Linked DNA regions of Homo sapiens: region 1 is linked to region 2. The links come from fine-mapping of genetic effects on gene expression. A gene starts in region 2. The other region holds a variant in brackets. All regions are shown on one strand. Distances are between the middles of the regions. Region 1 has its middle 39 kb from the start of CITED2. Region 2 holds the start of TXLNB (taxilin beta).

Region 1 (15,512 bases), 46 kb after region 2:
CGAGATGGCACCACTGCACTTCAGCCTGGGCGACAGAGCAAGACTCCATCTCAAAAAAAAGAAAAAGAAAAAAGAAAAAAGAAAAATGTTTAAACATACGCTTTATGGTTTGTGAACCTTCACAGTACTCTCCATTTCCACAACACTTTTCACTTTAGCAATAAAAAATTTGTGTACATAACTTTTCTTCAACTTTATGTGTAAATTCAGAAGTTAATGTATATTTAAAATTTATTATTATACCTTTACTTCCAAGTAAAATTTGAGGCCACTATCATACTAAGACATTTTTCAAACATCAGACAAATAAGTTCATATAAAGATTAAGGCAATAGTTAGGCTTTTAAGAGAAGAAAATCGATTACTACAGAACTCTAATGTTGAGGCCAGGCACAGTGGCTCATGCCTGTAATCCCAGCACTTTGGGAGGCTGAGGCGGGCTGATCATGAGGTCAGAAGATTGAGACTATCCTGGCCAACATGGTGAAACCCTGTCTCTACTAAAAATATAAAAATTAGCTGGGAATGGTGGTGCGTGCCTGTAATCCCAGCAACTCAGGAGGCTGAGGCGGGAGAATCGCTTGAACCAGGGATTCAGAGGTTGTGGTGAGCTGAGATCACGCTACTGCATGCCAGTCTGGTGACAGAGCAAGACCCTATCTCAAAAAAAAAAAAAAAAAAAAAGGAAAAAAAAAAGAAAAATACAAGAAATTAGCCAGGTGTGGTGGTGGTCACCTGTATTCCCAGCTACTTGGGAGGCTGAGGCAGAATTGCTTGAATGGGGGAGGCGGAGGTTGCAGTGAGCCAAGATCACTCCACTACACTCTAGCCTGGGCAACAGAGCCAGACTCTGTCTCAAAAAAAAAAAATCTGATGTTGAATCATTAGTGTAATTTATATGTAAATATGATTTAGATTTAACATAAATTTAGCAATATAGCTATATATTTTAATTTCCTCGTAGACAAGACCAAAAAGGAAACAGAATGGGTTCTAGAGGTCCCGTTAAATATTATAAAAGAAACATACAAACAACAAACAAAACCCCTCAGTATTCCAAACATTGTGTGCCAGGTAGGAATTCTGTTCCAGGAGGAATTCCTTGTAGGGATTCATACAGAGCAGAGAAGGAGTTGATAGCGCAGTAAGCAGTACCTTTAAATTTTGTTTTATGGAAGATATTAGGTTGGTGCAAAAAGGTCTACAAGGATAAGGAAAATGTGGCACATATGCACCATGGAATACTATGCAGCCATAAAAAAGAATGAAATCATATCCTTTCCGAGGACATGGATGAAGCTGGAAGCCATCATTCTCAGTACACTAACACAGGAACAGAAAACCAAACACCGCATGTTCTCACTCATAAATGGGAGTTGATAAATGAGAACACATGGGCACAGAAAGGGAAAAACACACACCAGAGCCTGTTGGGGGTTTGGGGGTGAGGGGAGGGAGAGCATTAGGACAAATACCTAATGCATGCAGGGCTTAAAACCTAGATGACAGGTTGATAGGTGTAGCAAACCACTATGGCACGTGTATACCTATGTAACAAACCTGCACATTCTGCACATGCTTAAAGTAAGGTAAAATTTTTAAAAAGGTCTATGAATGGCCATTTCCTGCATTAACCTTTGATGGATTCTGAGAGGATAATATTAAACTTCCACGAAGGCATTTCAGGGAAGAGTTAAGATAATAAGTACATGTTGCTTTCTGGTGAACTAAGCTAAAAGAAAGGCAAAGTTTATTAAGAAAAGGGACAAGTAGAGGTCAACATGTCCTTATCAAACATCATGTATAGTAATAGAACTAAAATAAAGCAGAAAAAGTTATTTCCCCTATGCCTCCTACTCAAGTTTCCAAATTGAGTTTCTGGGTTAAGTAGGGTATTACTCAAATCTAATTTTGGTTATAATTACATTCTGAGAATTATTTGCAAAATATACCAATACCTACACCATAAACTGACCTGTTAAGTGGAGTTTTTAATTTATTGTCTCTGTAGATTTGAAATATGTCTCAAAGTATTTTAGTATAGCTTATCCTAAGGTGAATCTTCAGACCATAAGTAGATAATGAGTGCAGCTGCTTTCCAACTGCCCTCATAGATTTTAATACAAGTATGTCAAAAAATGAAAGATAACTCTTACATCCTGTAATGGACTTTTCATAGAAGAAGGTAGTTTTTCTGGCTTCCTATCATCCGTGCATCATTATGGTAACAGGAATTTGTGGAACCAATCTCTACGTTGCATTCTCTGATTGGTTCAGACATTGTCCAGCCACCCAATCTGAGTCAAGCAGGTATGCTGACATTCGCTGATTTCTGGGAAAAGGTCTGCTTCCCAGCTGAACAAGAAGCCTCATGGAATGGAATGCCTAGTGCAGCTGCCCTATTTTGCTTCCATGAAGAGCCAAAGACAGAGAGCGGCACAGGGGAAGTCTGAGTAAAAAGACAGCTTGATGACAGCTTTTGAGCCCTCGATCCAGCCATGTTTGGAGAAATATCATTTTTGTTTAGGCCAATTTAGGTTCATTTTTCTGTTACATGCAACCAATATATATCTAACTAAATATCTAACTAAAACATCTTCCTATTCAGAAGGAAGAATACTTATGTTTAACTAAGATCTGAATAATATCTTTTACACATGCACATATACACATATAAGTTGAAAAGACTAAAATATACTCAAGTTCTAAAACATTTAAAATTAAAACTCTGTCTGTCACAATGTCACTCATTCATTCTCATTCTGCCAGAATGTTAGATACTGGCTGGAAAAAAAAAAATTCAAAAGCTGGTTTCTATACCAAGATCCCACACATGGGAAAAAACACAGGAAAAATGTGTGAATACCAACATGATTATGACATTAATTTGACTACTTCGTGAGACTGAAAGGAAAAATAAAACAGTGTCCAGTGGTCAGATGGTTGTGTTTTGTGTTTTTTTCCCCCTTGTAAAAGATTGAGAAATCCAGACCTGAAGTCTGAAATCTGTCCTACACTTTCAAAGGAGGAGAGAGCCAATGTATGCATTTGTAACTTAGAGGAACAACAGAGTTATTTTTTGTGGATAAGATTGATTCTACACAGAGTTCAATTTGAAGAAACTATGCCTAAGACATTAAAGAGAGCAAACAGTTGATCGGGATTGAGATTTGCTACTCAGGATAGTTTCTAAAGAACTGCAGGCAGAAGATTCTCTCTTGAGTCTCCATTCCTTTTCAGGTGACTGAGTAGATACCATCATCCAGCTATAAATGTTTGTTCAAATAAATTATTGCGTGGGAAGAGTCCTTGGAGCTATACAATAAGGAGAGATTGTTGTAAGCCTGCAAAGTTGAGTAAAATAGCTCAGCTGGTCAGAATTGGAATTTGTACTTTCATGGTGCTCTTGTAAAAGCCATAGCATAGGCAACCGTGTCCCCAAATCTATGCTCATTATTGATCCTATTCTCTATATCCAAGACCTTTCATTCTAGCTCTTTTTAAGGAAAATGTAGATTAAATATTTGAATTTAATACATTTCAATTTAACTATAAAATTGATAGTTATGTATATAACTTATAAATTGCACACTTAGGTACCTCTCTGTAACTTTAAGCTGTTTTGTTTTCTCTCAGATTAATGAAAGTTCCTGTTGAAAACTTGTCTTCAGGCCAGGCTGGGTGGCTCACGCCTGTAATCCCAGAACTTTGGTAGGCCGAGGAGGGTGGATCACCTGAGGCCAGGAGTTCGAGACCAGCCTGACCAAAATGATGAAACCCCGTCTCTATTAAAAATACAAAGTTAGCTGGACCTGGTGGATCATGCCTGTAATGTCAGCTACTTGGGTGGCTGAGGCAGGAGAATCACTTGAACCCAGGAGGCGGAGGTTGCAGTGAGCTGAGATCGCACCACTGCACTCCAGCCTGGGCGAGAGAGCGAGACTCTGTCTCAAAAAAAAAAAAAAAAAATGGAAATCAGGATTTTTTTTTTTTTTTTGAGACAGAGTCTCACTCTCTCTCCCACACTGGAGTGCAGTGGCGCCATCTCGGCTCACTGCAACCTCCGCCTCCTGGGTTCAAGCGATTCTCCTGCCTCAGCCTCCTGAGTAGCTGGGACCACAGGTATGTGCCACCACTCCTGGCTAATTTTTTGTATTTTTAGTAGAGATGAGGTTTCGCCATGTTAGCCAGGGTGGTCTCCATCTCCTGACATCATGATCTGCCCACCTCAGCCTCCCAAAGTGCTGGGATTACAGGTGTGAGCCACCGTGCCCAGCCAAAAACTTGTCTTTAATAATAATTTAATTAAGATATAAAATGTTACTTCTCAAATAGTGGAGAAGCTTAAATGCCAATTAGGATTTTTTAAATATTGCAGCCATTTAAAAATTGAACTGTGACTTAATATTTGATGCTCTTTTGGATGAAATGAAATCATCCAGGAAGAGAGCTAGTTTTAGATACTGCTGGATTCTGTGCTTAGAGAATACCACTAGGGTCCGTTTCTACGCGCTGCACTGTGGTCCATAATGCTATTCAAATTTACGTTATTCTACTTTCAAGTTCTGCAGAGGGGGAATTGCCTCCTGCAGCTTCTTCATAACTCTAGGGGTTCCCACACTCTCTCTCTCTGGCTCAGACTGGGTCAATGTGCTCATCCCATCCTTTAAACAATCATAGTGACTGCGGCCTGGGTGGGTGGAGGTGAGCTCTTTCGCGTAGGCTCCACCTCATAGTAAAGAGGAGTCACCTTTTCCTAAGCACATGAACTGGGGATGCGGTTGTTCATCCAAAGCAAAATTGGGGTATTGTTACCAACATGAGGAAGAGTGGATATCCTGGGCATAAAGAACAAATGTCCACCCTAAGGTAGAACTCAGATGTTCCAGCAGCAGAGCTGGTCAGAATTTGAGGTCAACGATCTCTAGACCTCTTCATGAAATTCTTTTTTCTGATATAGAACTTTAGAAAAGAAGGGTATAAATATCAGTTGAGATATGAAATATTGTCATATCATTGCTATGGACTAAATTGCATTATCTCTCCCGTTACTCCCAATTCATATGTTGAAGCTCTAACTCCCAATATGATGGAATTTATTGGTGAGGATTTGGAGGTAATTAAGATTAGACGAGGTCATGAGAGCGCGATTAGTGGCTTTTTTTTTTTTTGACGGAGTCTCATTCTGTCATCCAGGCTGGAGTGCAGTAGCACGATCTCAGCTCACTGCAACCTCCACCTCCCGGGTTCAAGCGATTCTCCTGCCTCAGTCTCCCGAGTAGCTGGGACTATAGGCGCCTGCCGCCACGCCCTCCTAATTTTTTGTATTTTTAGTAGAGATGGGGTTTCACTGTGTTAGCCAGGATGGTCTCGATCTGCTGACCTCATGATCCGCCCGCTTTGGCCTCCCAAAGTGCTGGGATTATAGGCGTGAGCCACCATGCCCGGCCCTAATGGCTTTTTAAGAAGTGGAAGAGTAAGAACTTTGACTCTCTGTCATGTGAGGACCCAGGGAGAAGGCAGTTGACTACAAGCCAGGCAGTAGACCCTCACCAGACACTGAATCTATTGGCACCTTGATCTTGGATTTCCCAACCTCCAAAACTGTGTAAAGTAAATGTCTCTGATTTAAGTCATCCAATCTCTAGTTTATTATAGTACCACAAGCAGACTAATACAATTGTGTTCAGGAAATGAATAATTCAAAGAACTTGTCTTCATAGCCCAGATATGCTTTTGGTATATAAAGAGTTATTCTAGTAAAGGTCGTCAAGTGTTTCTATTGGAAGAACATTCAAATGTAAAATGTTTGGCCAGGTGTGGTGGCTCACACCTGTAATCCCAGCACTTTGGGAGGCCGAGGCTGGTGAATCACCTGAGGTCAGGAGTTCAAGACCAGACTGGCCAACATGGTGAAACCCCGTCTCTACTAAAAATAAAAAATTAGCTAATGTGGTGGCATGCGCCTATAGCCCCAGCTACTCAGGAGGCTGAGGAAGGAGAATTACTTGAACCCGGGAGGCTGAGGTTGCGGTGAGCCGAGATCACGCCACTGCACTCCAGCCTGGGCGACAGAGTGAGACTCCATCTCAAAAAAAAAAAAAGAAAATATTGTTTTTCAGTGTTCAATATATTTTCTCACATACCTGTCTAGCAGTGGTGTCATGCAACTCAATCTGTATCTTACGGACAACCACAAAGCATCTTGATTTGGAAATATATACACCACATATTTGTGTTGACAATATTATCCAATCATTTGGAAACATAATTTATGAGGAAACTAGAGGTCCTGCATTTCAGCCATTTTGTCAACGAAGTCTCTACCTCAAGTAGTTCACTAATGAGGAGAGAGATTTATTTCTCAGTATCAAGTTTATGACATGAACGTCTGTTTTACAGCAATATTTACCTGTTCTTTTTTTCATCTTTAATTCTTGGACTTCATATAAAAAGGACAAAGTAAATCACATAGTCAAATTGGCTGATTCCGCATAAGCTCAGAGAGAAGAGTTCTATTTCAGAAAAATAATTTAATTCTAAATCTGTGTCTGAAGAAATATCATCTGTAAACTTTAGCTGGAAAGTGTTCTAAGAATATAGAGATATTCCCCATGGTCTTGATTGTGTTCATCCTGAAAGATTCAATTTAATAAGAGAAAGGTTTGGGTCTTTTGAAAACAGTAAGAAAATCATTTATCAGAGTTTCTATTTTCTCTGGGCAATTTTCACCATTTCAGCATACCCAAGAGAGAAATGACGTATAATTTTGTTATGCTGAAGAATTTGGCAAGCCAGCTAATGGTCTTACTAAAAGTGAAGAAATCCCTTTGGTGACAGATGCAGGAAGTTATGTCTGAATCATTTGGAACCATTGTAGAGAAGCCTTTGTTCCAAAAGAGATGTGTGGGGATTTTCTTGGGAAGAAAAGGTGTCTGAATATTCTTAAACCTCGAACAGATTTATCAAACTTGCTGCTTCATTTAATCCTTTGCCAAATGGGCTCATCTTCCATCCAACAGACTTCTCCCTAGCCATCTTCATCTTTCAAAAAGTCACCCTTAAAACGCATCTTGTGTTTCTTTCACTGCTGTGATGATGAAATCTGTCTCAAAAGAAGCATGTCGGTGTTGACTTCATAATCTTAGAGGCTGTAACATACAGGGAAGGCTGTTACTTAGAAACATACTCTCAGAAAGGTTTTTTGGAAGTTTTTAGGGAGGGGGCGAAGAAGAACTAGGGACAGGTAGATGGTGAATAGAATAACCTGAAGCCATGAGTCAAGGTCAACAGCAACAATAAGTCAAAGCAAGATCACTGAACATTGGTGAAAATAAAAAGAAGTGGAATCAGACTACAGAGGAAAATGAGTAAATTTAGTATCCAGAACTACTCTTAATGGGAAGTCCTATTAGCTTGTCTCCCATCAGAGTTAGGTGAAGTAATAATCTCCAAAAGGTGGGGCTGTTACCTCTGCAGGCGTTTAGAACTGGTCTGAACAAATCACCTGCAAGCTTTTTTGTGGTGGAAGAATGCTGTAGAACGGAGCTGTGAAAGCAAGTATAATTTCTTTTCTGACTCCCTCTGACTTTCACTTAATCATGTACAGGCAGTTCAAAAATCCTGCTGCCTCTTTCTTGCCAATTTCAATACAAATTCTCTCTGGCCAGAAAACTGATCATTTGGTATATAACCTTTTTTTTTTTTTTTTGGTTGGTTCCTCAGTTTCTCCACAACATCACCTGACATTCTGCTACATAAATAGCTATAATTTTAAATAAAATGAGTCAAACGCTAGTGTCAGGCCTTTACAAAGGCTCTCTCACCCTTTAAGATCGCTATAATCCCTCTTTTACATAAAAGGCAATAATGTTCAGACTCTAAGCTAGTGAGTTGAAACGCAAACTCTGAACCATCTCATCAGAAAAAAAAAAGAGCATAGGTTTAGAGTCAAATGAACTCCTGTGTGAATTCTGGCTTAGCATGCCTATTTCTGTCCCAATCT[A/G]TTCTATAATCTCCTTTATCCTTGTAGTGGAATTATTTTAAATTCTATCTTGAGACCCTTGTCTGGGAGCTTATATGATTCATTCCATCATTGCCCAAATGAGATAGACCAGGAGGCTGGATCCTCCTCTTAGTAGGGGTGGATGCTTTTTTAGTGGCTGTAAATGGATCAGTCCATGACTTAATTGTGCATGAAATAGAGATTTTTAAAAATTTTCTATAACCAAATTTAATTTCTGTCATAAATGCTAAATTTCTACCTGGTAATGACAAATTTAATTCTTCTAATTCAGGATAAACCTAGCCAAATTAGGATTTTTAAGACATTGTTTCAGGGTAAAATCATTCAATTTAGGCTTCTTCCCCCAAATTTCAATTAGCCCAAGTGGCATCTAACTTTAGGGAGGTGTTACGAATTAGGTAACCCCAAGTTATTTGCATTTCTTCTTTTCCTGAGAGTGGAAGTAGCAAGGTATAAAGTGTTATAATAATGGCTAGTAATTTGCAAAGAGGTAAGATGATCTTACAGGAGTAAACCAGCTTGCTGGAAATGAGTATTTTCAGTTAAGGGCCAAAATTGTGTAGCACGAGCTCCCAGAAAGCCCCTGGAATTGTGCCAGCAGACACGGCCATGAATTTGGCAGTGGCTGCTGTAGCCGTGAGGCAAGGTAGGCCTTTGCCACAGGATCAAAAGACAGACTGTAATAAGCTATGGATTTTTGGTGCTTTCCTTGTAATTAAAGCTATTAGAGAATCAGAATTTTATTTAGAAGCTTCTTTATTCCAATCAAAAAAGATAGTACATTCAACATTAGGACTTTACTGTCCTAATGAAGAGAAACTTCATTTGCTCTAAGAACACTGTAAGATGGACAATTTTGGAAACATATGGAATTCTCCCAAAGTGGCCAAATCATCATCGGTGAACTAGTGCCAGTTTGTGAGATGTGTGCAAGCATTTGGATAATAATAAAGAAGCAAGTGTCTGGACTGGCAGAAGTGCACACTTGAACTGAGATTACCCCTGGAGAAATGATCATGGTCAGTTGAATGTGTTGGTTCTGCATTTTGTGTCTTGAGCCACTAACCAGTGGCTGGCCACCCTTGACAAGAGACTTGATAATTTGTGGCCCTCAGCAGATAGAATTTTTGGATATTCTGTCTTTCATATTAACTGTCAGTTGTAAACACAGAACAGAGGAAAAATGGACCTTGTACGTTTTTTTGTTGGTGACTTGAAGTAAATTTCATTTACTGGGGAACATAAGCTTGACAAAATTTTTATTAACAGCTTTATTGAGGCCAAATTGACATACAATAAAATGCACATAATTAAACTATAAACCTTGAAAAGCTTTGACATTTGTATACACCCAGCATAATAATCAAGATAATGAAAATATGCATCATAAGTTTCCTCATGTCCGTTGGTAATACCCCCTTCTTCTCCCTGCTCCCCATACCTCTGAGTCCCCAAGCAACCACTGATCTGTTTTCTAACACTGTAGATTAGTTGGTGTTCTAGAATTTTACATACATGGAATATAGTGTGCATTCTGAGAAAAAATATATTTTTTTTCGCTCAGCATAATTTTGAGATTCTTCCATGTTTTGTGTGAGTCAATAGTTCACTTTTTGCATTGATTTGTATTCTGTTATATGGGCATACCAAAAATTGTTTATCCACTCACCTGAACATAAACATTGAAGCCTTCTTTCCCTAGGTTTCTGCTGTTATAAATAAAGCTGCTATAAATATTCATCTACAAGTTTGTGTGTATAGATACATACTTTGTTTTCCTTTAAGTAAATATCTAGGAGTGAAATTGCTGCGTCATATGGCAGGGATATAATTTCCTTTTTAAGAAACTGTCAGTTGCCCCATCGTGCAATGTGGTGCGGCAACCAAGCCAGGGCTGCTCCATGAAGAGGAAGCAAAGACGGCTTGCCAGGACAGTGATGGAGAAGAACAAAAAGGCAGGATCGCCTCAATAAAAGGAGGGTGGCTTTGCCAGTTTGTAATTTAAAATACTGAAGCACAGTCTTTGAAGCAACAAGGAAATGCACACTATGCCAAGGAAGATTACAACGAAGCTTATAACTATTAAACAAAAGCCACAGATATGTGCCCTAAAAATGCTAGCTATCATAGTAATAGAGCAGCTACATTGATGATACTTGGAAGGTTCTGCGAAGCCCATGGAGATACTTTCACAGTGAAATTGGATGATGGTTTCTTCTGGGGACATCTACGAGAGGGCAAGTGCCACCTCTCTCCAGGGAATGCCATGGCAGCACATTGCAGTTTTCAGAGAGCCCTAGAACTGGATCATAACAATGCTCACTCACAACAGGAGTTCACAAATGCTAATGCAGTCAAGGAATAGGAGAAAGTCATAGAAACAAGTTTTGAGAAGTGGGCTTTTCAGAAGGTTGTTTTCTGCATGGACTATGCCCTAGAATTTGCCCCTGTCTGCCATCACTTCAATATCCCTCAAAGCAGAATGTTTAGCAATGCTGGGTCGTTATCCAGAAGCACAGTCTGTGGCCAGTGACATTTTATGAACGGATTCCACCAATGTGGATGCTCTGTATGTACGCGGACCTTGCCTTTATTATGAAGATTGTACTGAGTAGGCAGTTGTTCAGTTTTTTGTACAGGCTCTCAGAGTGGTTCCTGACCATGAGAAGGCCTGCCTTGCGTGCAGAAATGCCAGAGCACTTAACGCAAAGAAAGAAGACTGGAATAAAGCGTTTAGGGAAGGAAATTACAAACTAGCTGATGAACTGTACGCAGAACCCCCGGGGTAGACCCCGACAACATAAAAGCAATTGCTAAACTCTACTGTAACCGGGATATGGTTAATTCCGAGCTTGGGAAACTAGATGATGCAATAGACAGCTGCACAAATGCAGTGAAGCTCATGACACTTACATAAAAGCCTACTTGAGAAGAGCTCAGTGTTTCTTGGACACAGAACAGTATGAAGAAACAGTGCGAGGCTATGAAAAAAGTATATCAGATGGAGAAAACAAAAGAATACAAACAGCTCCTAAAAAATGCACAGCTGGAACTGAAGAAGAGTAAGAGGGATAATTACTACAAGGTTCTGGAAGTGACAAGAATGCCTCTGAGGACAAGATCAAGAAAGCTTATTGGAAACAGGCCTTGAAGTACCATCCACATCGTCATGATGGAGCCAGCGCTGGGGTTCAAAAGGAGGAGGAGAAGATCAAGGAAGTGGCGAGGTCTTTATCATCCTCTTTGATTCCAAGAAAACGATTCATTATCACAGTGGGCAGGACCTGGATAAGGAAGACATAAATTTGGGTGATTTTGATGCAAACAATATCTTCAAGGTATTCTTCCGCGGTCCTACGGGCTTCAGCTGTGAAGCATCTGGTCCAAGGATTTTCTTTCTTCGATTGGGCTCATGAAAGGCAACCATCCAGAATCCAGAAAATGCAGAGTCGCTCAGTTTAAATGTAATCAGCAGATCATTTCTATTAAGAGAGGAATATTTAAATCTCAAACCATAATTTGTCTGCCTCTCCTGTAGATCTATCAGTTTTTTGCTCAATGTATTTTATTATTAGGTGCATAAATGTTTAGATTTGTTTATGACCTTTTATCATTATGAAATAAACTTGAAAAATCCCATGTAATATTGTTGGCTGTGAAATCTATCATGTCTGGTAGTAATATAGTCACTACAACTTTCTTATAGTTAAGGTTAGCTAGATTATCTTTTTCTGTCTTTTAACATCTAACGTGTGTGTGTGTGTGTGTGTGTGTGTGTGTGTGTGTGTGTAAATGAATAACACCAAAAACAGTTACTTTGAGAAAATCAGTGAAATTGGTCAATCTCTGGCTAGACTGATCAAGAAGAAAGAAAATATATATGGAGAGAGAGTACATTTCTTATATGCAGCATATAGTTTGGTCTTCTGTTTTTTTCTTTTCTTTTCTTTTCTTTTTTTTTTTGAGACGAAGTTTCACTCTTGTTGTCCAGGCTGGAGTGCAATGGCGCGATCTCAGCTCACCACAACCTCCACCTCCTGGGTTCAAGTAATTCTCCTGCCTCAGCCTCCCAAGTAGCTGGGATTACAGGCATGTGCCACCATGCCCAGCTAATTTTGTATTTTCAGTAGAGACGGGGTTTGGTCAGGCCGGCCTCGAACTCCTGACCTCAGGTGATCCGCCAGCCTGGACCTCCCAAAGTGCTGGGATTACAGGCGTGAGCTGCCGCACCCGGCCCTGTGTTTCTTTTCTGTTTGACAATCTCTGACTTTTAATTGAGATGTTTTGACAAAGTTATATTTAATGTGATAATTGATAGATTCAAGTCTGTCATCTTGCCATTTGTTTTCTGTTTGACCCATCTCTTCTTTTTCTTCCCTTTTCCTCATGTCTTTGGTTGAAGAACTTCCTTTGATATTTCTTTTTTTTTTTTTTTTTTTTTTTTTTTTTTTTTTTTGTGGTGAGATGGAGTCTCACTCTGTTGCCAGGCTGGAGTGCAGTGGCGTGATCTCAGCTAACTGCAATCTCCGACTCCCGTGTTCAAGCGATTCTCCTGCCTAAGCCTCCTGAGTAGCTGGGATTACAGGTGCGCACCACCAAGCCCAGCTAATTTTTGTGTTTTTAGTAGAGATGGGGTTTCACTATGTTGGCCAGGATAGTCTTGATTGCCTGACCTTGTGATCCACCCACCTTGGCCTCCCAAAGCACTGGGATTACGGGCATGAGCCACTACGCCCAGCCTGACATTTCTTATAGAGCAAGTCTGTTGCTGATAAATATTTTCAGCTTTTGTATATGTGAAAGAGTCTTTATTTCACCTTAGTTCTTGAAACATATTTTGCTTGGTATAAAATTCTAGTTTGACAGTTTAATAATTTTTTTGTCAGTACATTAAAGATGTTGTGTGTCACTGTCTTCTCACTTGCATTTTTTCTTATACGAGATCTGCTATAGTTCTTATCTTTGTTTCCCTAAATATATTGTGATGTTTTTCTCTGCTTTACAATGTTCTATCACTTGTTTAGGAAAATTTAATTATGATGTGCCTTAGTGTCGTTTTCTTCACATTTCTTGTGCTTTGGGTTCATTGGGCTTCTTGAATATGTAGATTTATGCTTTTCATTAAATTTGGAAAATTATTGGCCATTATTTCTTCCCATTTTTTTCTGTTACCCTCTCTCTTCTTTTTCAGTGACTTCTATTACATGTATATTAGGCATCTTGAAGTTTTCCACAGCACAGTGATACATGGTTTTTTAAATGTTTATTCTTTCTCTGTTTAATTTTAGATAATTTCTATTGCTATGTCTTCATATACACATATACACTAATCTTTTCTTCTGCAATTTCTAATCTATTTCTTAAACTCCTTATATATATATATATTTTTTTTCTTTGAGACGGAGTCTCGCTGTGTCGCCCAGGCTGGAGTGCAGTGGTGTGATCTCAGCTCACTACAAGCTCTGCCTCCTGGGTTCATGCCATTCTTCTGCCTCAGCCTCCCGAGTAGCTGGGACTACAGGTGCCCACCACCACACTCGGCTAATTTTTTGTATTTTTAGTGGAGACAAGGTTTCACCATGTTAGCCAGGATGGTCTAGATCTCCTGACCTCATGATCCACCTGCCTTGGCCTCCCAAAGTGCTGGGATTACAGGCTTAAGCCACCACACCTGACCCCTTAAATATATTTTTAGGCTGGGCGTGGTGGCTCACACCTGTAATCCCACCACTTTGGCAGGTTGAGGCAGGAGGATTGCCCAGGAGTTTGAGACCAGCCTGGGCAACAAAGTGAGACCCATCTCTACAATTTTTTTTTTTTTTTTTGAGACAGAGTCTTGTTCTGTTGCCCAGGCTGGAGTGCAATGGCACAATCTCGGCTCACTGCCACCTCTGCCTCCCTGGTTCAAGTGATTCTTCTGCCTCAGCCTCCTGCATAGCTGGTATTACAGGCGCTTGCCACCATGCCTGGCTAATTTTGTATTTTTGGTAGAGACAGGGTTTCACAATGTTGGCCAAGTTGGTCTTGAACTCCTGCCCTCAGTTGATCCACACACCTCAGCCTCCCAAAGTGCTGGGATTACAGGCATGAGCCACTGTGCCTGTAATTTTTTTTAATTAGCTGGGCATGGTGACATGTGACTGTGGTACCAGCTACATGGGAGGTTGAGGTGGGATGATTGTTTGAGCTTGGGAGGTTGAGGTTGCAGTGAGCCATGATTGTGCCACTATACTCCAGCCTGGGTGACAGAGTGAGATCTTGTCTCAAAAATATATATATTGTATATATAGTGGTAAAAGAATCTACATAAAATTTGCCATTTTATCCATTTTTATGTGTGCAGTACAATGGTGTTAAGTATAATCACATTATTGTGAAACATCTAATTTGCTTCTAATTTCATCCAATGAATTTTTCATCTCATTTCTAAAATTTTCATCACTAGAATTTGATTTAGGTCTCCTCTATATCTTTCATGTCTTTACTTAACTTTTGATCATTTGAAAAACAGTTACAATAAGTGTTTTAATGTCCTTGTCTGCTAATTCTAACATCTAGGTGGTTTTCAATTGACTGACTTTTCTCTTCATTAAGGGTGGTGTTTTGCTTCCTTCATGACTGGTGATCTTTTATTTTCTTTCTTTAAATTGTGTTTTATTAGATTTGAGATCCTGATGTATGGTAATCCTTGATTGAATGCTGGGCATTATAGATTTTTTCCTTGTTTGGTGCTGGATAGTTTCATATTCCTAAAAAGACTCTTGGTCTCTTCTTGGATGGTAGATTGGAGACATTGTCAGCATGCTTCTCCTCCTTGGAAAGACACAATAGTGTGTAGTGTTTCACACTGTGAATTTTTCTCCAAGAAGCAACACAGGAACTAAACAGGAAAACTGAAAGAAACCACAGGCCCTTTGAAAGAAGTGGTGGGCTGCAGCCTACACCATGAGTCAGGTGAAAAACTAAGTCTGCAGAATCTGAAGGGGGATAAACTGCCTCCAGGAAATACACTCCCACTGGGGAACCAGTTAATCCAGTCCATGGGGGAAGGCCTTAACCCTACTGAGTGCTGGCATTGATTTAGGGATTGATGTGGCATATAAAAGCAGGGGCAGCAGTGGGAAGAGCCTTGTGTGCATTCCCAGTCTTCAGCACAGACTAAGGGAAGTGATTTTTGGTCCTACCTCACAAGGGACTTCCCAGAAGTCTGCCAACTAACTCAAGTGGTGGTTGCACGTTGAGAGAAGCTCCTAGCTGAAATTCATGATATAATTTCAAGTGGGGACAGACTCCCTTGGCCAGAACTGGGGGCAAGTGGGAAGTGTGCTATAGCCACAAGTACAGGAGCTGGGACTGGGAGGAGCATGTCCTGAAAGCAGCTGTTGCTGTCTCCACAGGGAAGGCTTATGGGCTGGGGCAGTTTTGAGTTTTAAGTGCAGATTGCCTGGAACTTAGCTAGCTGATGCTAGTGTAACACTGCAAGTAT
Region 2 (15,512 bases):
GTAAACTCTCCTCCCTGTCAAGGTCTGGTCTAGGTTCTAGCTTCTCTATGAATCTACCTGTCAAGCTTTGTCTCTGCTTATTCCTCTTTCCCTTGAATTTCTCTGGTCTTCTTATCATCTCCTTCAGAAAATTTAGTCTCCTTCAGAAAATACCATCTCCTTCAGAAAATATCAAAGCTGCAGTTTATTACTCTCTCAGAGAAACTAGAAATCAAGCTAAAACAGATGAAACAGACTATCTGGGAGAGTGACCGGACCGTTCAAAGGAAGACTAGGGGCCGGGCGCGGTGGCTCACGTCTGCAATCCCAGCACTTTGGGAGGGTGAGGTGGGCAGATCACTTGAGGTCACAAGTTCGAGACCAGTCTGGCCAACACAGTGAAACCCCGTCTCTACTAAAAATATAAAAATTGGCCATGCATGGTGGCACGTGGCTGTAATCCTAGCTACATGGGAGACTGAGGCAGTAGAATCGCTTGAACCTGGGAGGTGGAAGTTGCAGTGAGCTGAGATCGCACCACTGTACTCCAGCCTGGGCAACAGAGTGAGACTTTGTCTCAAAAAATAAAGGAAGACTATGTAAATGGATGTCTGAAGACATTTCAGAATACTGATGTCCTAGTCAGGAGCCTCTCAGAAGGTACCACTGAAGCTCACTTGTAACTAGAAAGACAAAATTCATTAACTGAGGTGTAATAAATGCTCCTTAACCAATATGATGCTTGCTTCTGTACCACTTTGGTCCTGCGATGTCAGTGACACAAAGTCCATCCCTTGCTTTATGACTAATCTCACAATCACATCAACTAGATGAGTAACATTTTTTGGTGGATTCTGAAACTCCCTAGGCTTCAATTTCCCTGTCTATAAAATTAGTAGGTTGACTAGATGGATTCTGAGCTCAGAATAGCCCTGTGAATGAGCTTTGTTTTTCTCCCAGCCCACATAATGTTGTCAAAGAAGTGATAAATGAGAGATACCTCTGAGCCTGGAGGATGCGAGTAGGAGAACAAAGGGGATACTTTAGATGTGAACTTGGCATGGTGCCGCATAATGGGAAATCTGTTTTCATTTCTTTCATTTCAGATGCCAAGGGGAAAGTGACTTTACCCACGAGAGAGATTTTTAAATATTCCCCCAACTGCTCCGGTAAGTACTGCGTTTATTGTAGGAGAAAGTGCAGCCTCAAAAGGAAAAAGAAGTCCTGGGAGCTTAGGTTGTAGAGACATTTCCCAAATATTCAAGGTGTTCTGTAAAAAAAAAAAAAAAAAAGCCTTGGCCAGGCGTGGTGGTTCATGCCTGTAATCCCAGCACTTTGGGAGACCGACGCAGGCGGATCACCTGAGGTCGGGAGTTCAAGACCAGCCTGACCAACATGGAGAAATCCTGTCTCTACTAAAAATACAAAATTAGCCGGGAGTGGTGGCACATGCCTGTAATCCCAGCTACTTGGGAGGCTGAGGCAGGAGAATCGATTGAACCCGGAGGGCGGAGGTTGTGGTGAGCCGAGATCGCACCATTGCACTCCAGCCTGGGCAATGAGAGCGAAACTCCGTCTCAAAAAAAAAAAAAAAAAATGTCTCTCATAGATCCAATCAGTCAATAAGTTTTGGAAATGATGGAAACTATGCCCATCACTATTTTAGATCTTCATTGTGTATACAGTAAAGGTCAGAGAATTCTGGCAGTAAAGAAACTGTTTAACTTTGTGAAATCTCAAGCATCCCAAAGTAGACACACTTTGGAAAATGTTGTAGTAGAGAGTCAAAACATTTTAGCATCTCAAATGTGCCAATAAAGCAAATAGCATCTAATAAATACAATGATTAAAGACATCTTTGATCAAGTACATAAGCAAAATCTAAGAATATATCTTCAGATATGGGTTGAATGACTTATTAAAATTCTCTAAGAGGTCCAAATAGGTTATAAAAGGAGACCACAGCCAGATGTTTATATTTTCTCCAAAAGAGCAGAGAAAACACTTTCTGAAGAATCAGAACCATTGCTTCCACAATCTGTGTCAAAATTACCCAGGGTGAACATCTCCCATGCTCGCCTAAAAATTTTCCTGTTCCTGCTCTTGCACTTACACTATATGACAATTAGCTTATGTGTCTTCTTCTTCCTCTCTACCTAGAGATCCTTGACTAAAGGCCATGACTTATTTATCTTTGCGCACCTAGCACAGTGCATCATAAAGACTAGGCATTAATAAATACTCATTGTGGGCCGGGTGCGGTGGCTCACGGCTGTAATCCCAGCACTTTGGGAGGCCGAGGCGGGTGGATCATGAGGTCAGGAGATCGAGACCATCCTGGCCAACACAATGAAACCCCGTCTCTACTAAAAATACAAAAATTAGCTGGGCATGGTGGCACATGCCTGTAATCCCAGCTACTCGAGAGGCTGAGGCAGGAGAATCGCTTGAACTAGGGAGCTGGAGGTTGTAGTGAGCCGAAATCGCGCCACTGCACTCCAGCCTGGCAACAGAGTGAGACTCTGTCTCAAAGAAAAAAAGTAAATAAATAAAAATAAATAAATAAGTACTCATTGAGGACGTGAGGATAGGTAGAAATTTCTAGGCAAAGAAACTAGAATGTGCACAGGCCTTGTGGGAGATGGCGTATAGCATGTTCAAAGAACTGAGAAACTAGATCATGCTTCACTCCAGGCCTACAAACTCCAAATATCTGTGTGTGGGGGCTCAGGAGGAGCATTTTTCACAAATTTTGCAATTGATTCTAATAAACAGTTAAGTTGGAAAACCATTAGTCTAGACGATAGCACAGTACCATTTAACTGAAAAGTAGCTAAGAAGGCTGCCAAAGCTACTTGCAAACAACTGAAAGTTTAAAATGGTGGTTACAAGTTGAGGTTAGCCTAAAAATGTTGTTTTCATGCATAATGTAGCTGTTAAATAGTACAGTGTTTAAAATAATATGCTAATGATGATGAGTGGGAAGGCACAGAAAGGTCATGAGCCCACACATACTCAATTAGAGTGGACACACCTAGGTACTCTAATCCACAAGCATTGATTTTGGTCAAACACAGTCAGTTGGAATTTGGTATCGTAAATAGCGGCAGAATTAGGGAGTTGGAATTTTTAAAAACATCATCCTGACTATTTGGTAATTGTAAGGTTAATGCAGATTATGAAATAACTCATGGAAGAGAGTAGAAACCCAAATTGGTTATTTTAACTTTATCCCTATTTTCTTCATATCTTTCCCCTCAACACACACACACACACACACACACACACACACACACACACACACACACCCCAATTCTTATGTAAAAGTTTTAGGGTGATTGAAAAATAACTTTTCTGGTTAGGAACACTTGAAGTTGCTTACCTCTGGAATGAGATTTTGTATATTGTCTTACGGAAACTTGAATAATGACTAACTTTGCAAAGGGACACATTTGAGATGTTTTGTCAGAGAAGAAAAAATTGCTCTGTAACACAGAGCAATTTTATTATGTTTTTCCATGTTCCAAAACACTAGAGTGATTCCAACCCTGCACTTTGGAACTTGAAGATACTTAAAAGTTATTATCTGAGTTCTTTTAATTTTATCCTAGTTGGGTGAAGTATGCTACCTGAATGTATTATTTAGGCCTTCTTGAAAGCATTGTAGCAATGGGTTTTAGCATCATAGCGATATCTGTAGGAAAATAGCCCCTTGCATGGCAAGAGTGATGCCATCGTAAAGCAAACCTGCCATGATGACCAATGTTTGACTCCTCCATACCAAGGTGTTCTGCAGCAGATATCTCCAACCCTCAGGCCACGGACTGGTACCAGTCATTGTGGGCTGCATAATGGGAAATCTGTTTTCATTTCTTTCATTTCAGATGCCAAGGGGAAAGTGACTTTACCCACGAGAGAGATTTTACCCACGAGAGGCCTCTATCAGTTTCGAAAATACCACCTAGCCTGTGTTTTCTTGTCAGATTTTGTTCCCTTTGGCTTACATTTTCTATTTCTTATCTTTCAGTGGCCTTGTCATATTTGTAGGGGAACTTTGGCCTCTCACTCAGTAGGAGAGTGGATCTGGAGTTCTTATTAGGTCAACAGTGATGATGTGTATACACTATTACCAATAACAAAAATAAAAATATTAGAAAAAACAGTAAAATATTCATCCATCCACTCCCTACCTTGGTCAGAAGAGAGTACTAATAATTTTCCTCAAGGTTTTTCTCTCCCCTTCCATCTGCTTCTGTAAACTCTCCTCCCTGTCAAGGTCTGGTCTAGGTTCTAGCTTCTCTATGAATCTACCTGTCAAGCTTTGTCTCTGCTTATTCCTCTTTCCCTTGAATTTCTCTGGTCTTCTTATCATCTCCTTCAGAAAATTTAGTCTCCTTCAGAAAATACCATCTCCTTCAGAAAATATCAAAGCTGCAGTTTATTACTCTCTCAGAGAAACTAGAAATCAAGCTAAAACAGATGAAACAGACTATCTGGGAGAGTGACCGGACCGTTCAAAGGAAGACTAGGGGCCGGGCGCAGTGGCTCACGTCTGCAATCCCAGCACTTTGGGAGGGTGAGGTACCAGTCCGTGGCCTGTTAGGAACTGGGCTGCACGGCAGGAGATGAGTGGCAGGCGACAGAGCAAAACTTCATCTGTATTTGCAGCTGCTCCCCATCACTCACATTACCACCTGAGCTCCACCTCCTGTCAGGTCAACGGTGGCATTAGATTCTCATAGGAGCGTGAACCCTATTGTGAACTGCACATGCAAGGGATGTAGGTTGCATGCTCCCTGTGAGAATCTAATGCCTGATGATCTGTCACTGTCTCCTGTCACCCCCAGATGGGACCGTCTAGTTACAGGAAAACAAGCTCAAGGCTCCCACTGATTCTACATTACGGTGAGTTGTATAATCATTTCATTATATCTTACAATGTAATAATAATAGAAATAAGGTGCACAATAAATGTAATGCACTTGAATCATCCCGAAACTATCCCTCCCCAGTCCATGGAAAAACTGTCTTCCCTGGTGCCAAAAAGGTTGACGGCTGTTCTGCAGCAAGGTCTTTAAACAATGCCTGTGACATAGACAATCCCTCAGAAAGATGCTTATCTAACGTTCCCAGTGGTCATGACTTTTGGCAAGAAAGTTGGAGATGTGACCAGCTGCACATGACTTTACCTAAAAGCTTGCTATGTAAAGGACACTTTCTGGAGAGTGGGTGTAGGAATTCACTGTCTCACTGCTGCCCAAGACAGCACTACTGTTTGTAAGCCCCTATTAAATATTTCTTTCTGAGAAAGTGGATTTGTCAGCCTCTGTTTTTGGCCTTCAGCTCCCTTGGCCTTTGTGGGTAGGTTTGTATATACCTGCTCACTGCAGAAAAATATTCTACTCCAGTTTGTGATATATTTGGGTTTACAGATAGTCTGGTTACTGGAGTTTGAACCCAGTTCTGACTCCAATGCTCATGATCTTTCACTCTACCACATAGTCTTCCAGAAACAAATCATATGTGGTCTCTGCCCTTGATAGATTCTCCATCTAGCATGAGAGATGGGTATATAAACAAATGATTGCTGCAGAAAATTTAATAGAAAACTAAGGAAGGTGATGCTAACTCTACCTGGGCATGTCAGGGAAAGTATCACATAGGAGGGAGTATTCGTAGTGAGTGTTTCCACCAGGAAAGACAAGCAGAGGGACTTTCCTATGTACAGTAACATGCTTCACTCATAGTTTTAAAAATTAACGTTCTCACCCTTTTTTCCCAGCCATCGTTGGTGTCACCAATCTCCCATGCTCTCCTAAAAAATTTTCCTTTTCCCGTTTTTGCACTTCTCCTATATAATTAATTTACATGTCTTCTGTTTTCTCTATACTTACAGCTCCTTGACCAAAAGACCATGATTTATTTATCTTTGTGCACCTAGCACAGTGCCTTACAAAGACTAGGCATTAATAAACACTCATTGGGCACCTGAAGATAGGTACAGATTTCTAGGTAAAGAAACTAGGATGTGCACAGGCCTTGTGGGCGATGGAGCATAGCATGTTCAAAGGCCTGAAAGACAAGATCAGAATGACTAGCTATTAGGCAGTAGTGGTGGTGGTGGTAATAGAGGCAGAGTGTTCAGGAAGGTGATGTTGTAGGGTAGAGTAATCTGAGATAAAACTGGGACTGGTTGGAGTTAGACCATTAGGATCTTAGAGAACATGTTAAAGATTTTGGTCTTCATCCTAAGAGCAGTAGGAGGCCACGGAACAAAGGGTCAATGGGTAACACACTGAAAAGTTCACCTGAGCTCCATTGAGGGGTAAGGGCTGGGGACAAATACAACAAGGGAAAATATAGAAGGCTACTACAGTCATCCAAATATTGGATGTGGCTTTTAGTGAAGTTTGGAAGAAGTGCCCCTTTTTTAGGAATACCATACAGAAAAGTCACATATTTGAACATAACTACTTGCCTAATCCTTTTAGGATTTTCTTTTCCAATTTTTGCTCCTTATTGCTGACGGGCTCTTTGACAGTGGGTGGCTCTCCAGAAGCAACGGGTTCTCTTCCAGCCTCTTCAGTTGTTTCCTCACAGTCCCCATCCTCGTTGTCAGGTGATTCTGCATTCTCAGGCTGCTCACTGGCCCTGGCAGAGCCCTCTTTCCCTGCTGTGCTGGCAGCAGACCCATAAGTGTTAATGATGTCTTCCAGCTGTCGATTCAGCTCTTCAGAGATATCGGGGTGCACACTTGCCTCTTTCTCTGGTGGTTGGACTGGGGTTGGAGAATCCTGGCCATCTTCCTTCTCCAGGCCATTGTGACTGGGTAATGATGAACTGTCACCTGGAGGTGTTGACTGTCGTTCCGCTGAGAGCTGTTCAGAGTGATTAGCCTCCATCTTGGGAGTAGTATCTAGTGGTAAGCACAGTTAGGCTTTATGTAGCTAACCTACTTGCTACATATCAATGCTACATTTCAATGGTAAGGATATCCCCCAAGTGAATACCAACTAATTATAGTCTCTAACGTAGAGAAAGGCAATGTCCTTTCACAAACCATTGATGTTACTAAGGGAGGAGACCACCCCTCATATCGTCTTATGCCCAATTTCTGCCTCCAAAGAAGAAGTAAAAACTAAAACGCAGACATGAAATCCACAGGCAGACAGCCTGGTGCCGCGCCCTGAGCCTGGTAGTTAAAAATTGACCCCTGACCTAATAGGTTATGTTATCTATAGATTACAGACATTGTATAGAAAAGCACTGTGAAAATCCCTATCCTGTTTTGTTTCGATCTAATTACCGGTGCATGCAGCCCCCAGTCACGTACCCCCTGCTTGCTCAATCAATCACAACCCTCTCACGTGCACGCACTTAGAGTTGTGAGCCCTTAAAAGGGACAAGAAATGCTCACTCAGGGAGCTCGGCTCTTGAGACAGGAGTCTTGCTGACGCTCCCGGCCGATTAAACTGCTTCCTTCTTTAACTGGGTGTCTGAAGGGTTTTGTCTGCGGCTTGTCCTGCTGCATTACAATTATTAAAGTAGGGACAGTGGAAAGTTGTTTTTCCAAATCAAGTCACACTGCTGGCATATTTTTGGTTTTGATCTTCAGTTTTCAGTAGCATTCCTTATTATTCACATTAAGAAAGTAATTCATGCTATTTTTCTTTGTGGCCATATTTGTCATTTTGCTTACACTAGTCAGTTTGTGTTACCATTTTCCTGTATAATTCTATGTAGATTAACAATCACTGGGGGTACATGACTGTATATATTTAAAATGTTTAAATATAAAGTGGTATTAGTTTTCTTTCAAAGTTAAAATATTTAATAGAAGAGCCATTGAATTTATTTAAATAACTCATAAGAATAACATCTCTAAGCTCTATTTGATCCATAAATCAATATTTTGCTTAGTGTGAATATTTTGATGTAAATGCATTATTACACTGGATAGAGGAGACATTTCTCACTTTTCTGGCATTTTCTTTTTCAGATAAGCAACACGAATGCTTTTTTTGAGGCTTAAACTGGCATCATTTTTAGATTAAGACAGGGAATGAGGGAAGGTATAAATAAATAGACAAAGTAGTATGGAAACACGGGCCAGGTGCTGTGGCTCATGTCTGTAATCCCAGCACTTTAGGAAGCCGAGGCGGGTGGATCCTTGAGGCCAGGAGACCAGCCTGGCCAACATGGTGAAACCCTGTCTCTACTAAAAATACAAAAATTAGCCAGGTGTGGTGGCGGGCACCGGTAGTCCCAGCTACTTGGGAGGCTGAGGTATGAGAATTGCTTGAACTTGGGAGGCGGAGGCTGTAGTGAGCCAAGATCGTGCCACTGCACTCCAGCCTGGGTGACAGAGCAAGACTTCGTCTCAAAAACTAAACAAAACAAAAGCATGATGATACTTATAACAACAATTCCTTAAATTTCTATAATACTCTTTTATTCCAATATATAAACCAATTTTTTAAAAGAGAAAAACAGATTACAACTTTCTCTTCTAAGTCAGGAAGCTCTAGAAAAACTTAATGATTTTTAAGAAGTAGCAATGTTTCATAAACAAGGAGGAGACCAACTCGAGAAATAATTCAGCAATAATAAGGGCCCTTAGGAAAGGGTGAGAGATGGTACTGAGTCAGAGATTCCAGGGTTTCTGACTATTACCACTTCTAGAGTTGCAATAGATTTGGTTTAGGCCTTTAAGTTATGGTGCATTTTATTTGTAAATAATATTTAACAGTGATGCTGCTAAATAGCAGCATAAAAATGTGGCAAGATCCTCATAATTCACAGGTTTTGCTGTTGTGGTAACATGAAAGTGAAAACAAAAGCATACTGTTCTACAACTGCACAGCTTCCTTTTCCTGTTCTCAGGGCAGTAGATGTCAATTGAATGCTCAGACACCAACAAGAACAGAAAATTCAACACACAGATGTTGCCACTGACTTGTGATGCTCACCAAACACTCATAACTTAGAGGAAGTACTTTTTTTCTTTCACTGGTTTGAATTCACCAACTTGATTATCAAATAATGCAGCAGTTTCATTATTTTCATCACTGGGATTTCTTTTCCTGACCTCACTTGTTGATTGCACTCATCTATATATAACTTAGGCCTCCCCTGAACACGGAGAAAGACACACGGCACCTGCTGTCCAGCCAGAAGTTATTTTAAGCTATTCTAAAATGAGTCATGCCGTTTAGCACTTCATCCTTGAAAATCAAGAGAATCGTTTTTCAGTCAAATTGAAAACAGTAAACATTTAGTGGCTTAAATCCATACATGGGTTTTAAAGTCGGGGAGACTATCTTAGGATGAAATAAAATCTCAAGTAAAATGAACTTCAAAATAATTAATTTAAGATAAGCTGTCCATAGGAGTTTTACTTCGGTTAGTCTAAATGCAAGTGGCTGTTTGTATTTGATTTATTCTTCATGAGATGCCACAATCATTGATTTTTTAAATTCTTAATTCCATGGCTATTCTTTAAACTCCTGTTCCACATTTACTTTAAAACAGAACAGTCATTATAAAGCCCAGGACAATTCAATTCCCAAAAGTAGCCTCAAGACAAGTTAACAAGAGGGAAAAAAACAAAGTCAGAGAACTTTGTTACTTTTCAATCATCCATTTTATATTATGTGGCAAAGAAATTATTTCTAACTTTTATCTTATATAAACTTTATTGCCTTATTTTCCCCTCCCCAGGGAGAGAACTTTTCACTTGTGTTGGCTATTCCAGATGACTATCACAGACACATCCCTCCCTAAGCAACACATTTTATTTATAAATACAACAATGAAAAGTTCTCCAACAGTTCACTGGCAATCTCAAAGTTGCAAGTTTCGAACACCACAAACCGCACCCTATACCTTCTCACAGGGCTTGGGGGAGTGTTTGTCATACTTACCAGAAGGCAAGAAGCTAAGCAAGAAGAGAGAGGAGAGGAAGGAGGCAGGAAAAAGCAAGTCAGAGCTGCAGCAACAGCAGGAGAGGGCGGGCTGGCTGTGTTCTTACAAGGGAGAGAGAAACCCAATACACACACACACACATACACACGTGCACGCACGCGCGCGCACACACACACACACACACACACGCCACAGGCACTGATGGAGGCAGCAGTCTGGAGGAGGTGGGGGTAGGGAAAGGAACATCATATGACACAGCAAGGGGAAAATACACCCAAGCTTCCCTAGCTGTTGCCAGGGGAAATACCTTAGCAGAGAGAAGCAGCTGGAAGATCTCATTAGACTCTCCATGTTTTGTTTGTCCTTTCGGAAATTTAAACTCTGAGTATATTACCCCCGTTGCAAATGCAGTCTTTCACCATTGTTGTCCTTTTTGGGTAGAGATCAGTTTTTCTTACTTCTTGGGTTATCTCCAGTGTGGTGGAAGATTCATCTTCTTTTTCTTCTTCTTCTTGCACTAGCTTAATTAGTGTCAGGTTTCTTACAGGAATCATGGAAAAAGAAAAACAATGGCATAAGAACAGGGAGGTGGTGGAACCATTTTAATTCTGATGTCATTGTTTGGTTTGTTTGCAAAGTTTGAAATAAACATGTAGATGGTGATTTTGGAGCTGAACTGAGTATAATCTTCATGCACGTGGTAATTGGTGTGACCTTGGAGCACAGTCTTTCCCAGGTAACTCTTCCCATCTCAAACAAACCCTCAGGGAAGCAGTCTGCTTTTTCTTCCTTAGTTGGTGGCTTTCCCACATTTTGTAAATCCTCAACATGCTCCTTGATCCTCCTCAGAAAAAGAAATTCCTTCTGATTCACCATAAAATGCCTGTCTATTAATTTACATCCATTTGCCTTTTATTTTTCTTTCTGGAGCTTGTGTTCCCATACTTCCAAAGCAGATTCCTCCATCGGTTTCTGCTCTGGGGACAGGCTAGGCATAGTGGCATCCCTTGTGGGAGGCAGAATAATGCCACCCAAAAGATCTCCACGTCCTACTCCCTGGAACCTGTGAATATGTTTCTTTACATGACAAAAGAGACTTTGCAGATGTGAGGAAGGATCCTGAGGTAGGGAGGTTATCTTGAACTACTGGGTGGGTTCAATGTAATCATAAGGGTATTTATTTATTTATTTATTGAGACAGAGTCTCGCTCTGTCACTCAGGCTGGAGTGCAGTGGTGCAATCTCAGCTCACTGCAACCTCCCGGGTTCAAGCGATTCTCCTCCCTCAGCCTCCCAAGTAGCTGGGATTACAGGCGCCTGCCACCACATCCAGCTAATTTTTGTATTTTTAGTAGAGACGGGGTTTCGCTGTGTTGGCTAGGCTGGTCTCGAACTCCTGACCTCATGATCCGCCCACCTCGGCCTCCCAAAGTGCTGGGATTATAAGCGTGAGCCATTGCACTCAGCCTCATAAGGGTCTTTATAAATGAGGGAGGAAGGCAGTAGGATTGGAGGCAGAAAAGGAGATTTGATGACCTCAGCATAGGTCAGGAAGCTTCTAGAAGCTGGGAAAGGCAAGGAAACAGATTATACTCTAGAGCCTCCAGAGGGATGCAATCCTGCGACATTGATCTTAGATCAAAGAAATTCGTTTTGGATTTCCGACCTCCAGAAATATAAAATAGCAAACTTATGTTATTTTTAAGCTGCTAAATTTGTGATAAGATGTTATGGCAACAAAAGGAAATGAAAACATCCCACCCCCAGTTTTGTCCTACTTATTCTCTGAGTTTAGGGGAGGCATAAGTTATATATAGATGAGTGCACCCAACAAGCAGAAGTCAGGATAAAGAAATTCCAGTGTTGAAGACAATGAAGCTGTTCACTATATTATTTGATAATTAAGTTAGTGAATTAAAATTGATGAAAGAGAAAAGCACTTTCTTCTAAATTAATGAATACTTGGTGAGTGCCACAAATTGGGTGGCATTCCATCCTGGATTGTAGCAAACTGACCCGATCACATCTCTTAGTAAATATAAACAAGTCAGTGCTTTTCAAATTTAAATAATGTATAGACTCACTTAACAGAATAATTTAAATAATGTGGAAATTATTTGAAGGATTATATTATTATTTGAACCTACATGTACTAAAATGAAAATAGGATAAATTCCTTATGCTTACAGTAGTTACATAAATTTTAAAATGTATACATTTTAAAGCCTACAAAATCAATAAATGCGACTCAAATTAATAACACTACTTTTATGTGACAGATATTGTTTTGCTGAACTTAAATTGCTGCTTGCAACATGAATACTCTATTGACTGCTGGGTTTTTTGAGTTTCTGGTACTCTTCTACAATGTGGTTTGGGAATTTCCTCAACACTTGATTCATTCAAATTATTACATAGTTTTTATTCATATGGCCTGCTATGATTTCATGGGGCTCTCATTTGATACGGCTGCATCATTTACTGCTTGCTATGGTCTGAATGTTTGTGTCCCCCCAAAATTCATGTGTTGAAATCATAAACCCCCAGGTGATGGTATGAGGAGGTGGGGCCTTTGGGAAGTGATTAGATTATGAGGGTAGAGCTTTTATGAATGGGATTAGTGTTCTCATAAAAAAGGTCTGAAAGAAACCCCTTACCCCTCTGCCATGTGAGGGTGCAGTGAGAAGAAGGCTTTGTACGAGGAAGTCACCAGACACAGAATTTGCCTGCACCTTGATCTTAGACTTTCCAGCCTACAGAACTATGAGAAATAAATTTCCATTGTTGGCCCGGCACGCTGGCTCACGGCTGTAATACCAGCACGTTGGGAGGCCAAGGCAGGTGGATCACTTGAGGTCAGGAGTTCAAGATCAGCCTGGCCATCATGGTGAAACTCCATCTCTACTAAAATACAGAAATTAGCTGGATGTGGTGGCGCATGCTTGTAATCCCAGCTACTGGGGAGGCTGGGGCAGGAGAATCATTTGAACCCAGGAGACAGAGGTTGCAGTGAGCCGAGATTGTGCCACTGCACTCCAGCCTGGGCGACAGAGCAAGACTCTGTCTCAAAAAAAAAAAAATTCCATTGTTTATTAGTCACTCAGTTTATGTTATTTTGTTATAGCAGCCTGAATAGATGAAAGCCCTATTCTTTCTCATTGTCCTGCAATTATTAAAGTAGTGCTAATTGGCCCTAACTTGAATAGATACACACATGATAGTGGAGGTATCAAAATGACACTTACACAGTGGCTACCCAGATCCAAAACAGGCATATGCATTTTCAAGTATAATTGAAAATAATACAAACATGCAAAACTGTGACTCCCAAGAATTTATCTGTGGCCTGATAGGGGCCCAAAAAACTGGGATAAGTTAATAAAGACAGCAAATTAATAGAGCTCAGTGTTTTATTGTCAAATCAACGTTAAAAGAACACAAATTACACGTCTAAGGCTTTGAACTTTTGTAAAGAATACACTTATTTTTTGAAAATACATCTAACTGTTTACGCAAATATCACAGGAAAATAATTTGAAAATTCAAATGATGCTAAAAAGCTTAACCCAAGAAACAATAACTCCTTGTTCTTCCACCTTCCTCCAACCTTGTGATGCTTTCTAGAGGTAATAACATAAAACTGTTGTAGATATTTTTTGGGGGGGGGATTTACTTTATCATTTTTAAATAAAATGCCTTGATTTTATTTACAACTCACCAATTTTTGACATTATTTATTGTCTTCTCATAATGATAGATGAAGATTTTCATTGTTTACACTCCCCTTTTTCTCCTCTCTTCATTTTCCCCACAAAATTATATCTCAATGTTTAATTCATATCCTATATTGTCTTTATTGAAATAATGTTTACTGTTAAACCAGGTAGAGCATTGTGATTATAGTTCTATTCATATGCAACTTTCTGTTTTTCCTGGAGTTGATAATTTCTTTTTCTTTTCATTTGCCTAGTATTGAGAATACTCTGTCTTCCCAAACAGCGTAAGAGGCCTATAAATCTTTCTATACAATATTCCCAAAGGTCAAATAATTTATGTATTCTAGTACTTTTTTGGAGATATGATCCCCACATACAAACACTCTTAGAACCTTGACCCCCCCCTCCTCCAGCCTGGGCTGGTGGCTTCTAGGCCTGCTACACAGCTGTGGTCCTGGCACTTCCCCTGCTGTCGTTCTGGGAATTCCCTTTACCTCTCTCCTGTTGCCTGGCTCCTATTCTTCCTCTTTCTTGGTTTAATTCCTCATTTAGAAAAACATATCCTCTAGTGGCTTCCTGAGAAAGCATTTATGGGAGACTGTGTGTGTGCCTGAAATATCTTTTTGATACCCTTATACTTACTTGATTGATAGTTTGGCTAGATGTAACCTTTTAGGTTGAAAATAATTTTTATTAAAAATCTTAAGACATATTATTTTCCCCTGTCTTTTAGTTTTTAATGTTTCTTAAAAATGCAAGGTCATTCTTATTCCTAATCCTTTGGATATGATCCATTTTTTTTCCTCTCTAGAACCATTTGGCATCTTTATCATGATGTTCTGAAGTTTCACAATGATTAAATTTGATGTAGATCTTTTTTTCATTTATTATTTTGGATGCTTACTTGGTTTTAATGTCTGTAGACTCAAATGTTTAACCTCTTCTCTTTTTCGTCATTGTTGCTCACCCTTGTCCTCCTCTGAGCCTCATATCGCTCAGTTCAGAGCCTTTCTGGTTAAGCTTCTTCAGAGAACAATCCTCAGGTATCCTGAAAGGGGCTTGATTTTGAAGGGTGGCATTTAGGACCCTTTGTTCTAACTGTTCCTTCTCCTAACTGGAAACAAACAAGCCAGGTGTGATGGTGCGCACCTGGTAGTCGCAGCTACTTGGAAGACAGGGGCGGGCGAGAGGATCATTTGAATGCAGGAATTCAAATCCAGCCTGAGCAACATAGTGAGACCCCATCTCTGAAAGCAAACAAACAAACAAACAAACAAAGCCAACAGCCAACAAACCATCCTACTATTTGTAGTCTCCTGCTTTACTGCCAATTTCAATAGTATCTCCACTTGCAGAGTATTAACCTCAAATTCCTTAGTCTTTCCAGTCTACCAGGGAAATCAGCTTGCCCCTCACTGCTTGCCTGTCCCACTTACATCCAACTCATCCCTGTGAAGCACACTTCCTGTTGAATCATTTACCACTATGTATTGTGTTCTAGTCCTCATCCGTTGTGGTTTGGGGTTTATGGATTCAATTCTTCTGGCTTCCCTAACATTAGAGCTTCCCTTTTTCTGCCTTTTTTCTTCTTCTTCTTTACTGGTGAATTTTATAGAAGAAAGAAGTCAGAATTCTCTTCTTTTCTGATTTTTACCATAAAGATGTGTTTAACCACTGTAGCAGTCCAGTAATGAAATGACCTATCCCTCCAAATAAAAAGCATCAGCATTGGAAATATCCAGTAGAGACTTGGTTGTTCTTTCTTTCAGGAATACTAGTAAAGAAATGTCTGGAAAGGGGGCAGGGGTAAACTAAATGATTCACTTAAGATCTTTTTCAAGTATAGAAGTTTATAAATTCTGTACTATTCTACCATGGGCTGAAAGGAAACAG

Evidence for each region.
Region 1: its variant is fine-mapped to the expression of TXLNB in whole blood (INTERVAL, PIP above 0.99).

Annotation. Positions count from the first base shown.
Region 1 is chr6:139,328,145-139,343,656 of GRCh38, forward strand. It overlaps the pseudogene LOC100129844. Among named protein-coding and RNA genes, the nearest start is that of CITED2, 39 kb to the right of the region's middle. The variant A/G (reference allele first, on the strand shown) is at 8,006.
Region 2 is chr6:139,282,019-139,297,530 of GRCh38, forward strand. TXLNB (taxilin beta) reads right to left here and starts at 9,980. Exons shown (of 10, transcript NM_153235.4): 1 at 9,903-9,980; 2 at 6,458-6,895. The coding sequence starts at 6,881. LOC102723690 (a long non-coding RNA gene) reads left to right here. Exons shown (of 5, transcript NR_197427.1): 3 at 3,864-3,902; 4 at 4,826-4,884. RefSeq lists enhancers at 8,695-8,754, 8,955-9,204 and a silencer at 8,814-9,108.